Homo sapiens: one gene and its partners. The protein of the gene in region 1 purifies or fractionates together with the protein of each later gene. This does not show direct contact. Each region holds a gene or a part of one and is shown in the gene's direction. Other genes may lie near its edges.

What was found. Proteins that work in one complex are often made in the same cells at the same time.
Region 2: the proteins of TAF1L (region 1) and TAF5 fractionate together in Homo sapiens (co-fractionation; one large-scale study listed by BioGRID). This does not show direct contact.
Region 3: the proteins of TAF1L (region 1) and TAF4 fractionate together in Homo sapiens (co-fractionation; one large-scale study listed by BioGRID). This does not show direct contact.

The regions. Positions count from the first base shown.
Region 1 is NC_000009.12:32,632,870-32,637,091, reverse strand, and holds the start of TAF1L (transcription initiation factor TFIID subunit 1-like), read left to right. Parts: upstream 1-1,422; 5' UTR 1,423-1,512; coding exon 1,513-4,222. UniProt on the Homo sapiens protein: May act as a functional substitute for TAF1/TAFII250 during male meiosis, when sex chromosomes are transcriptionally silenced.
Region 2 is NC_000010.11:103,381,476-103,384,975, forward strand, and holds part of TAF5 (transcription initiation factor TFIID subunit 5), read left to right. Parts: intron 1-245; coding exon 246-366; intron 367-1,762; coding exon 1,763-1,892; intron 1,893-3,500. UniProt on the Homo sapiens protein: The TFIID basal transcription factor complex plays a major role in the initiation of RNA polymerase II (Pol II)-dependent transcription.
Region 3 is NC_000020.11:62,055,882-62,059,381, reverse strand, and holds part of TAF4 (transcription initiation factor TFIID subunit 4), read left to right. Parts: intron 1-3,500. UniProt on the Homo sapiens protein: The TFIID basal transcription factor complex plays a major role in the initiation of RNA polymerase II (Pol II)-dependent transcription.

The DNA.
Region 1 (4,222 bases):
CAATTGACAGAAGAGGAAAAACAGTTGGTCAATAAGTGTATGAAAAGTTAGCCTTCAGTAGCAATCAGAAAAATACAAATTAAAACCACATTATCATTATACATTTATTAGAAATGAACAAAAATTAACAAATGACAATGCTAAGTGTTAGAATGGATGTGGAGAGGTGAGAACTTTTATACACTGCTGTTAGGTATGTAAAATGGTACAACTACTTTGGAGAACAATTTAGTAATAGCAAGTGTAGTTGAAAAAGCATATATTGTAAAATCTAGTAATTCCACTCCTAGATGTATACCCTGGAGAATGTGTCCTACATATGCTCAAGGAATCATATACATTATTTATAAGAGGAACAATTTGGGAACAATTTAAATGAACAAACATAGGAACATAGATAAATTGTAGCATAACCATACTGTAGAACACTATAGAGCTATAAAAATAGAATTGAATGCATCAACATAGTTGAATATCATAAACATAAATTTTATCCAGAAAACATTCTGGCTAAGAGTACATACAGTAAGGTCGGGTTTGGTGGCTCTTGCCTGTAATCTCAGCACTTTGGGAGGCCAAAGTGGGAGGATTGCTTGAGGCCAGGAGGAGTTTAAGACCAGCTTGGCTAACATAGTGAGATCCCATCTCTTAAAAAAAAGGAAGGGGGAAAAAAAAAACGAGTACACACAGTAAGATGCCTTTTATACAAAATTGTAAAGCATGACAATGCTATAGATTATTTGGAGAAGCATACATATGCAGTTCATGTATAAAGAGATTTACAGAGGCTGGGTGCAGTGGCTCACGCCTGTAATCCCAGCACTTTCGGAGACAGAGACGGGCTGACCATCTGAGGTCAGGAGTTTAAGACTAGCCTGGCCAATATGGTGAAATCTTGTCTCCACTAAAAATACAAAAAATTAGCCAGGCATGGTGGCTCATGCCTGTAATCCCAGCTACTGTGGAGGCTGAGGCAGGAATCTCTTGAACTCCTGAGGTGGAGGTTTCAGTGAGCCGAGATTGTGCCACTGCACGCCAGCCTGGGGCGACAGAGCAAGACTTTGTCTCAAAAACCAGCAAACAGGCTGGGCGCGGTGGCTTACGCCTGTAATCCCAGCACTTTGGGAGGCCGAGGCAGGCGGTTCACGAGGTCAGGAGATCGAGAGGCTAACATGGTGAAACCCCGTCTCTACTGAAAATACAAAAAAAAAAAAATTAGCCAGGCGTGGTGGCGAGCGCCTGTAGTCCCAGCTACTCAGGAGGCTGAGGCAGGAGAATGGCGTGAACCCAGAAGGCAGAGCTTGCAGTGAGCCAAGATCGCGCCACTGCACTCCAGCCTGGGCGACGTTGCGAGACTCCGTCTCAAAAAAAAAAAAAAAAAAAAGTTTTGCGGGTTTTTCCCCCCGCCCCTTTGCCCCCTCCCCCCGCCTTTATTCAGCTTCCGGTAGACGCTGGTAGGGTAAGGGAGCTAAGTAGATCACTTCCGGGCGACTGTTGTTTTATTTCCGGTTTATGCGACCCGGCTGCGATTTGCTGCTGAGGGCAGCAGCTACCGTCACTGCCGCCATCATGTCAGACTCGGACAGCGAGGAAGATTCATCTGGAGGTGGCCCATTTACTTTAGCGGGTATCCTTTTCGGCAACATCAGTGGAGCGGGGCAGCTGGAGGGGGAAAGCGTCTTGGATGATGAGTGTAAGAAGCACTTGGCAGGCTTGGGGGCTTTGGGGCTGGGCAGCCTAATCACTGAACTCACGGCAAATGAAGAATTGACTGGGACTGGCGGTGCCTTGGTAAATGATGAAGGGTGGATTAGGAGTACAGAAGATGCTGTAGACTATTCAGACATCAATGAGGTGGCAGAAGATGAAAGCCAAAGACACCAGCAGACGATGGGGAGCTTGCAGCCCCTTTACCACTCGGATTATGATGAAGATGACTATGATGCTGATTGTGAAGACATTGATTGCAAGTTGATGCCTCCTCCACCTCCACCCCCGGGACCAATGAAGAAGGATAAGGACCAAGATGCTATTACCTGTGTGTCTGAAAGTGGAGAAGACATCATCTTGCCCTCCATCATTGCCCCTTCCTTTTTGGCCTCAGAGAAAGTGGATTTCAGTAGTTACTCTGATTCAGAATCTGAGATGGGACCTCAGGAAGCAACACAGGCAGAATCTGAGGATGGAAAGCTGACCCTTCCATTGGCTGGGATTATGCAGCATGATGCCACCAAGCTGTTGCCAAGTGTCACCGAACTTTTTCCAGAATTTCGACCTGGAAAAGTGTTACGCTTCCTACATCTTTTTGGACCAGGGAAGAATGTCCCATCTGTTTGGCGGAGTGCTCGGAGAAAGAGGAAGAAGCATCGTGAGCTGATACAGGAAGAGCAGATCCAGGAGGTGGAATGCTCAGTAGAATCAGAAGTCAGCCAGAAGTCTTTGTGGAACTATGACTATGCTCCACCACCACCCCCAGAGCAGTGTCTCGCTGATGATGAAATCACGATGATGGTTCCTGTGGAGTCCAAATTTTCCCAATCAACTGGAGATGTAGATAAAGTGACAGATACCAAACCAAGAGTGGCTGAGTGGCGTTATGGGCCTGCCCGACTGTGGTATGATATGCTGGGTGTCTCCGAAGATGGCAGTGGGTTTGACTATGGCTTCAAACTGAGAAAGACACAACATGAACCTGTGATAAAATCTAGAATGATGGAGGAATTTAGGAAACTTGAGGAAAGCAATGGCACTGATCTTCTGGCTGACGAAAACTTCCTGATGGTGACACAGCTGCATTGGGAGGATTCTATCATCTGGGATGGGGAGGATATCAAACACAAAGGGACAAAACCTCAGGGTGCAAGCCTGGCAGGCTGGCTTCCTTCTATTAAGACTAGGAATGTAATGGCTTACAATGTTCAGCAAGGTTTTGCACCCACTCTGGATGATGACAAACCTTGGTACTCCATTTTTCCCATTGACAATGAGGATCTGGTGTATGGACGCTGGGAGGACAATATCATTTGGGATGCTCAGGCCATGCCCCGGCTGTTGGAACCTCCTGTTTTGGCACTTGATCCCAATGATGAGAACCTCATTTTGGAAATTCCTGATGAGAAGGAAGAGGCCACCTCTAACTCCCCCTCCAAGGAGAGTAAGAAGGAATCATCTCTGAAGAAGAGTCGAATTCTCTTGGGCAAAACAGGTGTCATCAGGGAGGAACCACAGCAGAACATGTCTCAGCCAGAAGTGAAAGATCCATGGAATCTCTCCAATGATGAGTATTATTTCCCCAAGCAACAGGGTCTTCGGGGCACCTTTGGAGGGAATATTATCCAGCATTCAATTCCTGCTATGGAATTATGGCAGCCCTTCTTTCCCACCCACATGGGGCCCATCAAAATCCGGCAGTTCCATCGCCCACCTCTGAAAAAGTACTCATTTGGTGCACTCTCTCAGCCAGGTCCCCATTCAGTCCAACCTTTGCTAAAGCACATCAAAAAAAAGGCCAAGATGAGAGAACAAGAGAGGCAAGCCTCAGGTGGTGGAGAGTTGTTTTTTATGCGCACACCTCAGGATCTCACAGGCAAAGATGGAGATCTTATTCTTGCAGAATATAGTGAGGAAAATGGACCCTTAATGATGCAGGTTGGCATGGCAACCAAGATAAAGAACTATTATAAACGGAAACCTGGCAAAGATCCTGGAGCACCAGATTGTAAATATGGGGAAACTGTTTACTGCCATACATCTCCTTTCTTGGGCTCTCTCCATCCTGGCCAATTACTGCAGGCACTTGAGAACAACCTTTTTCGTGCTCCAGTGTATCTTCATAAGATGCCAGAAACTGATTTTCTGATCATTCGGACAAGACAGGGTTACTATATTCGGGAATTAGTGGATATTTTTGTGGTTGGCCAGCAGTGTCCCTTGTTTGAAGTTCCTGGGCCTAACTCCAGAAGGGCCAATATGCATATTCGAGACTTTCTACAGGTTTTTATTTACCGCCTTTTCTGGAAGAGTAAAGATCGGCCACGGAGGATACGAATGGAAGATATAAAAAAAGCCTTTCCTTCCCATTCAGAAAGCAGCATCCGGAAGAGGCTAAAGCTCTGCGCTGACTTCAAACGCACAGGGATGGATTCAAACTGGTGGGTGCTTAAGTCTGATTTTCGTTTACCAACGGAAGAAGAGATCAGAGCTAAGGTGTCACCAGAGCAGT
Region 2 (3,500 bases), on another chromosome or scaffold:
AGGCTGGTCTTGAACTCCTAACCTCAGGTGATCCACCTGTCTCAGCCTCCCAAATTGTTGGGATTACAGGCATGAGCCAGTGCGCTTGGCCAATATTTTAAATCAAGAATTTTAAAAGTCTTTATATATTCCTTAAAATAGAGGATTGAGGAGATATTTAGTATAGTGTGAAAATGATTAACATTTGCTTCCTATCTCTAAATATCCTAAAATAGTATTGTTTAGTCTAACCCTTTTATTGGCAGGGTCTCACTGCAGTGGATGTCACTGATGATTCTAGTCTGATTGCTGGAGGTTTTGCAGATTCAACTGTCAGAGTGTGGTCGGTAACACCCAAAAAGCTTCGTAGTGTCAAACAAGCATCAGGTAACTGAGATGACCTTTTGGAATGTGAACTTGCCATTAGTCTATACCAATCTTGATTCCATGGAAAATACACAGGAGATTGTGTTCTTTACAGAAATTCACTTGATTTTACTTTAACTCAAGATTCTAACATTCCCAACAGTGAAAAAAGCTTTGGAGTGACTGGGGTGCTAGACTGGTTTAATTTCTTTAGGTCTCAGTTTTCTCATCTGTAGAATGAGTGAGTATTAAGCTAAAAAACTTAAAGTTAAAAATCTAACATTTTATGATTGCTTGTAAATCTTAAAAAATCTTTAAATAAGGGATGGTACTTCCTGTTTTAGTCATAAAAATGGCTAAAAAGAACAAATAAGGTCAGGATTTTATTTGAAAGTTTTTTACTTTTTGTTTTTTTGAGACAGAGTCTCGCCCTGTCACCCAGGCTAGAGTGCAATGGCGCAGTCTTGGCTCACTACAGCCTCTACCTCCCAGGTTCAAGGGATTTTCTTGTGTCAGCTCCCCAGCTCCCCAGTAGCTGGGATTACAGGTGCCCACCACCATGCCCAGGTAATTTTTGTATTTTTAGTAGAGATAGGGTTTCGCCATGTTGGCCAGGCTGGTCTCGAACTCCTGACCTCAAGTGATCCGCCTGTCTGGCCTCCCAAAGTGCTGGAATTATAGGTGGCTCACTGCAACCTCCACCTCCCTGGTTCAAGCGATTTTCCTGCCTCCACACCCGGCCTGAAATAAAGTTTTTTACTAACTATATTATTTAAATAAAACAATATATTTTAAATTATTTCAATATTTCCATAGGTTTTTTTTTTTTAATTTTAAATTTTTTTTAGATGGGGTCTCACTCTGTTGCCCAGGCTAGAATGCAGTGGTGTGATCACGGCTCACTGCAGCCTCTAATCCCTGGGCTGAAGTGATCCTCCCACTTCAGCCTCCTGAGTAGCTGAGACTACAGGTGTGTGCAACCACACTGGCTAATTTTTTATTTTTTGTAGAGACAGGGTTTCTCCATGTTGTCCAGGCTGGTCTCGAACTCCTCTGGGCTCAAGCAATCTGCCCGCCTTGGCCTACCAAAATTCTGAGACTACAGGTGTGAGCCACCATGCCTGGCCCATAGTTTTCATTTTGTGAAACACTGTGGCATAGTGGGCAAAACTGAGTTTCAGTTCTGGTTCCCACACTGAGTAGCTGTGTGCACTCTAGCAAATTATCTGTTCTGAACGTCATTTTCTTCTCTTACACGCTGAGATGATACTGCCTAATTTAGAGGGATTAGCAAAGTGCGGTTGGTATATAGGAGGAAATTTTCAAATGTTAATTCCTCTCCTGCACTGTGATATGATTACTTTAAAAGTTTTGATGAATGTACTTATAAAATATCAATATTTCTGGACCATTTTAGATCTTAGTCTTATAGACAAAGAATCAGATGATGTCTTAGAAAGAATCATGGATGAGAAAACAGCAAGTGAGTTGAAGATTTTGTATGGTCACAGTGGGCCTGTCTACGGAGCCAGCTTCAGTCCGGATAGGTAAAATACAAACAATAAAAATTAAATACTGCTATGTTATATTGAAATTATATAAAAGTTAACTACTGGAAACATTATGCAAATGCTGGGAAAATTCTGATAAAAATCTCATGGTTGTCTGACGTTCATCATCTTTTAGAATCTTGCCATTTGCTAATTCATCTTTGAATCCTGGTGTTTGTACATGGTAGCAATTTAATGTATACTCACTTTTTTTTTTTTTTTTTTGAGACAGAGTTTCGCTCTTGTTGCCCAGGTTGGAGTGCAATGGCGTGATCTTGGCTTACCGCAACCTCCGCCTCCTGGGTTCAAGCGATTCTCCTGGCTCAGCCTCCTGAGTAGCTGGGATTACAGGCATGCGCCACCACACCTGGCTAATTTTATTTTTTTATTAGAGATGGGGTTTCTCCATGTTGGTCAGGCTGGTCTTGAACTCTCAACCTCAGGTGATCTGCCCACCTCAGCCTCCCAAAGTGCTGGGATTACAGGCGTGAGCCACTGTGCCTGGCCTGTATACTCAAATTTATAGAATCAAAATGCACAGTTTCAGGGCTTACTGGTTTTAAAAATTAGCTTTAGTATTTCCCTTTTTTTTTTTTAATTATTTTTATTTGTTACCCAATGGTAAATAACCAACCAAAGCTTTAGTTTTATAGAACTCCATTAGGGGTTGAATTGCTTCATTGGGTCCCTGCATTGTGTCTTCTGGCTGCTTCATCAAATTTAAGACAAATTCCTGACATTAATGGCATATTAGCTAGTAATTGAGGATTAATCTTTCTATAATCAAAAGTACTAAGAGTAAATGAAAAAGGAAATTCAAAATTGGTTTGCTTCCCTTTAGGTGTATGATTACAATGTCATCCTATGTGTATAGGTATTTGCCTATTTTTCATGATCTCTAACACTGTAAAAATGGGTGGAGGGTGTTTTGTATTCATAATACCATCAGTATATTACTTGGATAGATAATAGCTTTCAGGCCGGGCACAGTGGCTCACGCCTATAATCCCAGCACTTTGGGAGTCCAAGACAGGCGCATCACCTGAGATCAGGAGTTTGAGACCAGCCTGGCCAACATGGGAAATCCTGTCTCCACTAAAAAGTACAAAAATTAGCAGGGTGTGGTGGCGCCCACCTGTAATCCTGGCTACTTGGGAGGCCGAGGCAGGAAAGTCACTTGAACATGGGAGGCAGAGGTTGCAATGAGCCGAGATTGCACCACTGCACTCCAGCCTGGGTGATAAGAGCAAAACTCCATCTCAAAAAAAGAAGAAAAGAAAAAAAGATAATAGCTTTCCATCCATCAAGGTTTCATCATTACGAAACTTTGAGAATTAGGTTTTTTGTTGCTTGATAAGGTTTTGCCAGATGATACATTTTTGAGGGAAACGTCTGATTTCAGTGAAAATTGTAATAACCTTCTGACTATCAATCTTTTGTGTTTATGCTTGAAAAAGGTAGAGAATTATTAGCATGTCTGTAGTTTTTTTTTCTTTTTCTTCAAAAGACATTTCCTTTTTAATTCTTACATAGCTTACACAGCATGGGAAAATAGCATCTTTATTTTAGGGTCAAAAATTGTTGAGTTTTAAGTGACATATCACA
Region 3 (3,500 bases), on another chromosome or scaffold:
TTTGAGTGAAAACTTTTGATTTTTACATATCTCAAATGAACATTTGCACCAAAGATGTACAGCTTTCGAAAAACAAAGAGATACATGTTGTCCACCATGAGGCCCCTCTCCCATTTGAGAAAGTACCTGGTGTCCGCTGTTGGTCAGTCCGCGGTGGTCCCAGGCTCTTCTCCAGGCCTGCCTTCTGCCTGGAGCAGGCCATGCTGCAGTGTGCAGGATGATGTAGTGAAGTGCCCCCAGCTTCTCCCACCGTGGGTGTCATGTTGTGGAGCAGAAGTTGTCGTTGGGAACCGCGTGTGAGGGCAGGAGAAATTGTTTGTTGGGAGCCGCATGTGGGGACAGGAGAAGTTGTCTGTTGGGGACTGTGTTTGGGGACTGGAGAGGTTGGCCCCCCGAGCCCCATTGTCTGTGGCCTGGTGTGTAGACCTGTGTCCGTCCTTCCTGAGGTCTTGCTGAGGTTGGCCCCCGAGCCCCATTGTCTGTGGCCTGGTGTGTAGACCTGTGTCCGTCCTTCCTGAGGTCTTGCTGAGGTTGGCCCCCGAGCCCCATTGTCTGTGGCCTGGTGTGTAGACCTGTGTCCGTCCTTCCTGAGGTCTTGCTGAGGTTGGCCCCCGAGCCCCATTGTCTGTGGCCTGGTGTGTAGGCCTGTGTCCGTCCTTCCTGAGGTCTTGCTGAGGTTGGCCCCCCGAGCCCCATTGTCTGTGGCCTGGTGTGTAGGCCTGTGTCCGTCCTTCCTGAGGTCTTGCTGAGGTTGGCCCCCCGAGCCCCATTGTCTGTGGCCTGGTGTGTAGACCTGTGTCCGTCCTTCCTGAGGTCTTGCTGAGGTTGGCCCCCGAGCCCCATTGTCTGTGGCCTGGTGTGTAGACCTGTGTCCGTCCTTCCTGAGGTCTTGCTGAGGTTGGCCCCCGAGCCCCATTGTCTGTGGCCTGGTGTGTAGACCTGTGTCCGTCCTTCCTGAGGTCTTGCTGAGGTTGGCCCCCCGAGCCCCATTGTCTGTGGCCTGGTGTGTAGACCTGTGTCCGTCCTTCCTGAGGTCTTGCTGAGGTTGGCCCCCCGAGCCCCATTGTCTGTGGCCTGGTGTGTAGACCTGTGTCCGTCCTTCCTGAGGTCTTGCTGAGGTTGGCCCCCGAGCCCCATTGTCTGTGGCCTGGTGTGTAGGCCTGTGTCCGTCCTTCCTGAGGTCTTGCTGAGGTTGGCCCCCCGAGCCCCATTGTCTGTGGCCTGGTGTGTAGACCTGTGTCCGTCCTTCCTGAGGTCTTGCTGAGGTTGGCCCCCGAGCCCCATTGTCTGTGGCCTGGTGTGTAGACCTGTGTCCGTCCTTCCTGAGGTCTTGCTGAGGTTGGCCCCCGAGCCCCATTGTCTGTGGCCTGGTGTGTAGGCCTGTGTCCGTCCTTCCTGAGGTCTTGCTGAGGTTGGCCCCCCGAGCCCCATTGTCTGTGGCCTGGTGTGTAGACCTGTGTCCGTCCTTCCTGAGGTCTTGCTGAGGTTGGCCCCCGAGCCCCATTGTCTGTGGCCTGGTGTGTAGACCTGTGTCCGTCCTTCCTGAGGTCTTGCTGAGGTTGGCCCCCCGAGCCCCATTGTCTGTGGCCTGGTGTGTAGGCCTGTGTCCGTCCTTCCTGAGGTCTTGCTGAGGTTGGCCCCCCGAGCCCCATTGTCTGTGGCCTGGTGTGTAGGCCTGTGTCCGTCCTTCCTGAGGTCTTGCTGAGGTTGGCCCCCCGAGCCCCATTGTCTGTGGCCTGGTGTGTAGGCCTGTGTCCGTCCTTCCTGAGGTCTTGCTGGGCCCTTTGTGTCCCCCACTGGGCATCACTGGAAAGCGCCGATGTGAGGAAGGCACACGTGGCATCTTGATCTCAAAGTTGTGAGAGGAGCGTAGCCAGGTAGGGTGGTGTTGGGGTACATGGATCTTGGAGGGACCATTTCCGAATAGTCAGGAAACCCCAGAAACAGTTTTTTCTGTCTATCAAATTTGACATTAGGTTTTAGAATGAGGGCCCTGCAGTAAGAAGGTCTGTGGCTCCCAAGGGAATTGTTTCGGGGTTGGGGTCAGAGGTCTGAGTGGACAGTGCGTGGACAAGGCAGGACACTAGGAGCCAGGGAGCTGAACCCTTCTCTGGGCGCTGGGTGTGGCCCAAGCACACCTGGGGCAGAGGCTTTGTGGGTCAGCTGGTCCACTGGGGGCTGCAGACACTGTGGGCAGAGGTGCTGCCGGTGGCAAGGTGGGCACCTTGTTCCATGGGGTCGGGGGACACAGCCTTTCATTTTCTGACTTTGCAGTAAAGTGTGTGGGACAATGACCTGTGAAAGTTTTTAAAGGAAGTTCTGTGTCTTCTGCGGAGGAGCGTGGTCTCCGTGGTGTTCATAGGAGCCACGCACGGTGCTCAGAGCATGCCCAGAACGCACAGGCCTGCCTTGCTTTGGAGCTTTGCAGAAGGTTACGAATGTCAGTGTCAGAAGCATCATGACAGGAACAAGGGTGACACGGGAAGCAGGCTCGATTGGCTTTTTTATGTAACTGTAAGTGTAAAAAATTATTAGTTACTTCAACATGATTTTTTTGATGATAAAATTAGTTTTTTTTTCATTATAGGAAGTTTGGGAAGTAAACTGTAAAGAAGAAAATACAGTCACTTGTAACGTCACCTGGCCCAGACTGCTAAAATTTCGGGGTGTCTCACTTCAGCCTGTGTCTGCTGCATATCTGCTTCTGTGTTTTTCTGTAATTACAGTTCTCCTGTGACCCAAGTCTGTGCTTTGCCTTGTCCTGTGTCTGGTGCACTTTCCCTTGGCCCTCGGTGGTCTCAGGCTCCAGCATTTGGTAACGGCCCCTGTGCCAGGGTGCTGTGCTGATGGCGACAAGTGGCCCCCTGTAGGTGAATGCCTTCATGTCTAACTGTGTGTGTGTCTGGTGGGTTGAGCATTTTCAAGGCTTTGATACATATCACCTTCCACCAGATTACACTTTTAAAACCATTGCCAGAATACGACTTTTGGGAATGGATACCATTCTAAAGGAAGAAAATCGTGTCTAGTTTTAAGTTGCATTTCTTTGAGTGAAATTAGACCTCGTTCATGTGGATGTTGGCTATTTATTCTCGCCAACTGTGCCTATTTGTATAAGCGCGTTCTTGTTTTTTTCTTTTTTTTCGAGACAGAGTCTCACTCCATCACCCAGGCTGGAGTGCAGTGGCGCAATCTCAGCTTACTGCAACCTCCGCCTCCCGGGATCAGGTGATTCTCATGCCTCAGCCTCCCGAGCAGCTGGGAATACAGGCATGTACCACCACACCCAGCTAATTGTTGTATTTTTAGTAGTGACGGGGTTTCACCTTGTTGGCCAGGTTGGTCTCGAACTCCTGACCTCAAGTGCTCCGCCTGCCTCTGCCTCCCAGAGTGCTGGGATTACAGGTGTGAGCCACTGCGCCTGGCCTGCATGAGCACATTCCGAGGGTGTGTACTGGGCCACGGGGGAAGGCTGATGAGGGTACCAGGGTTCAGCTGTG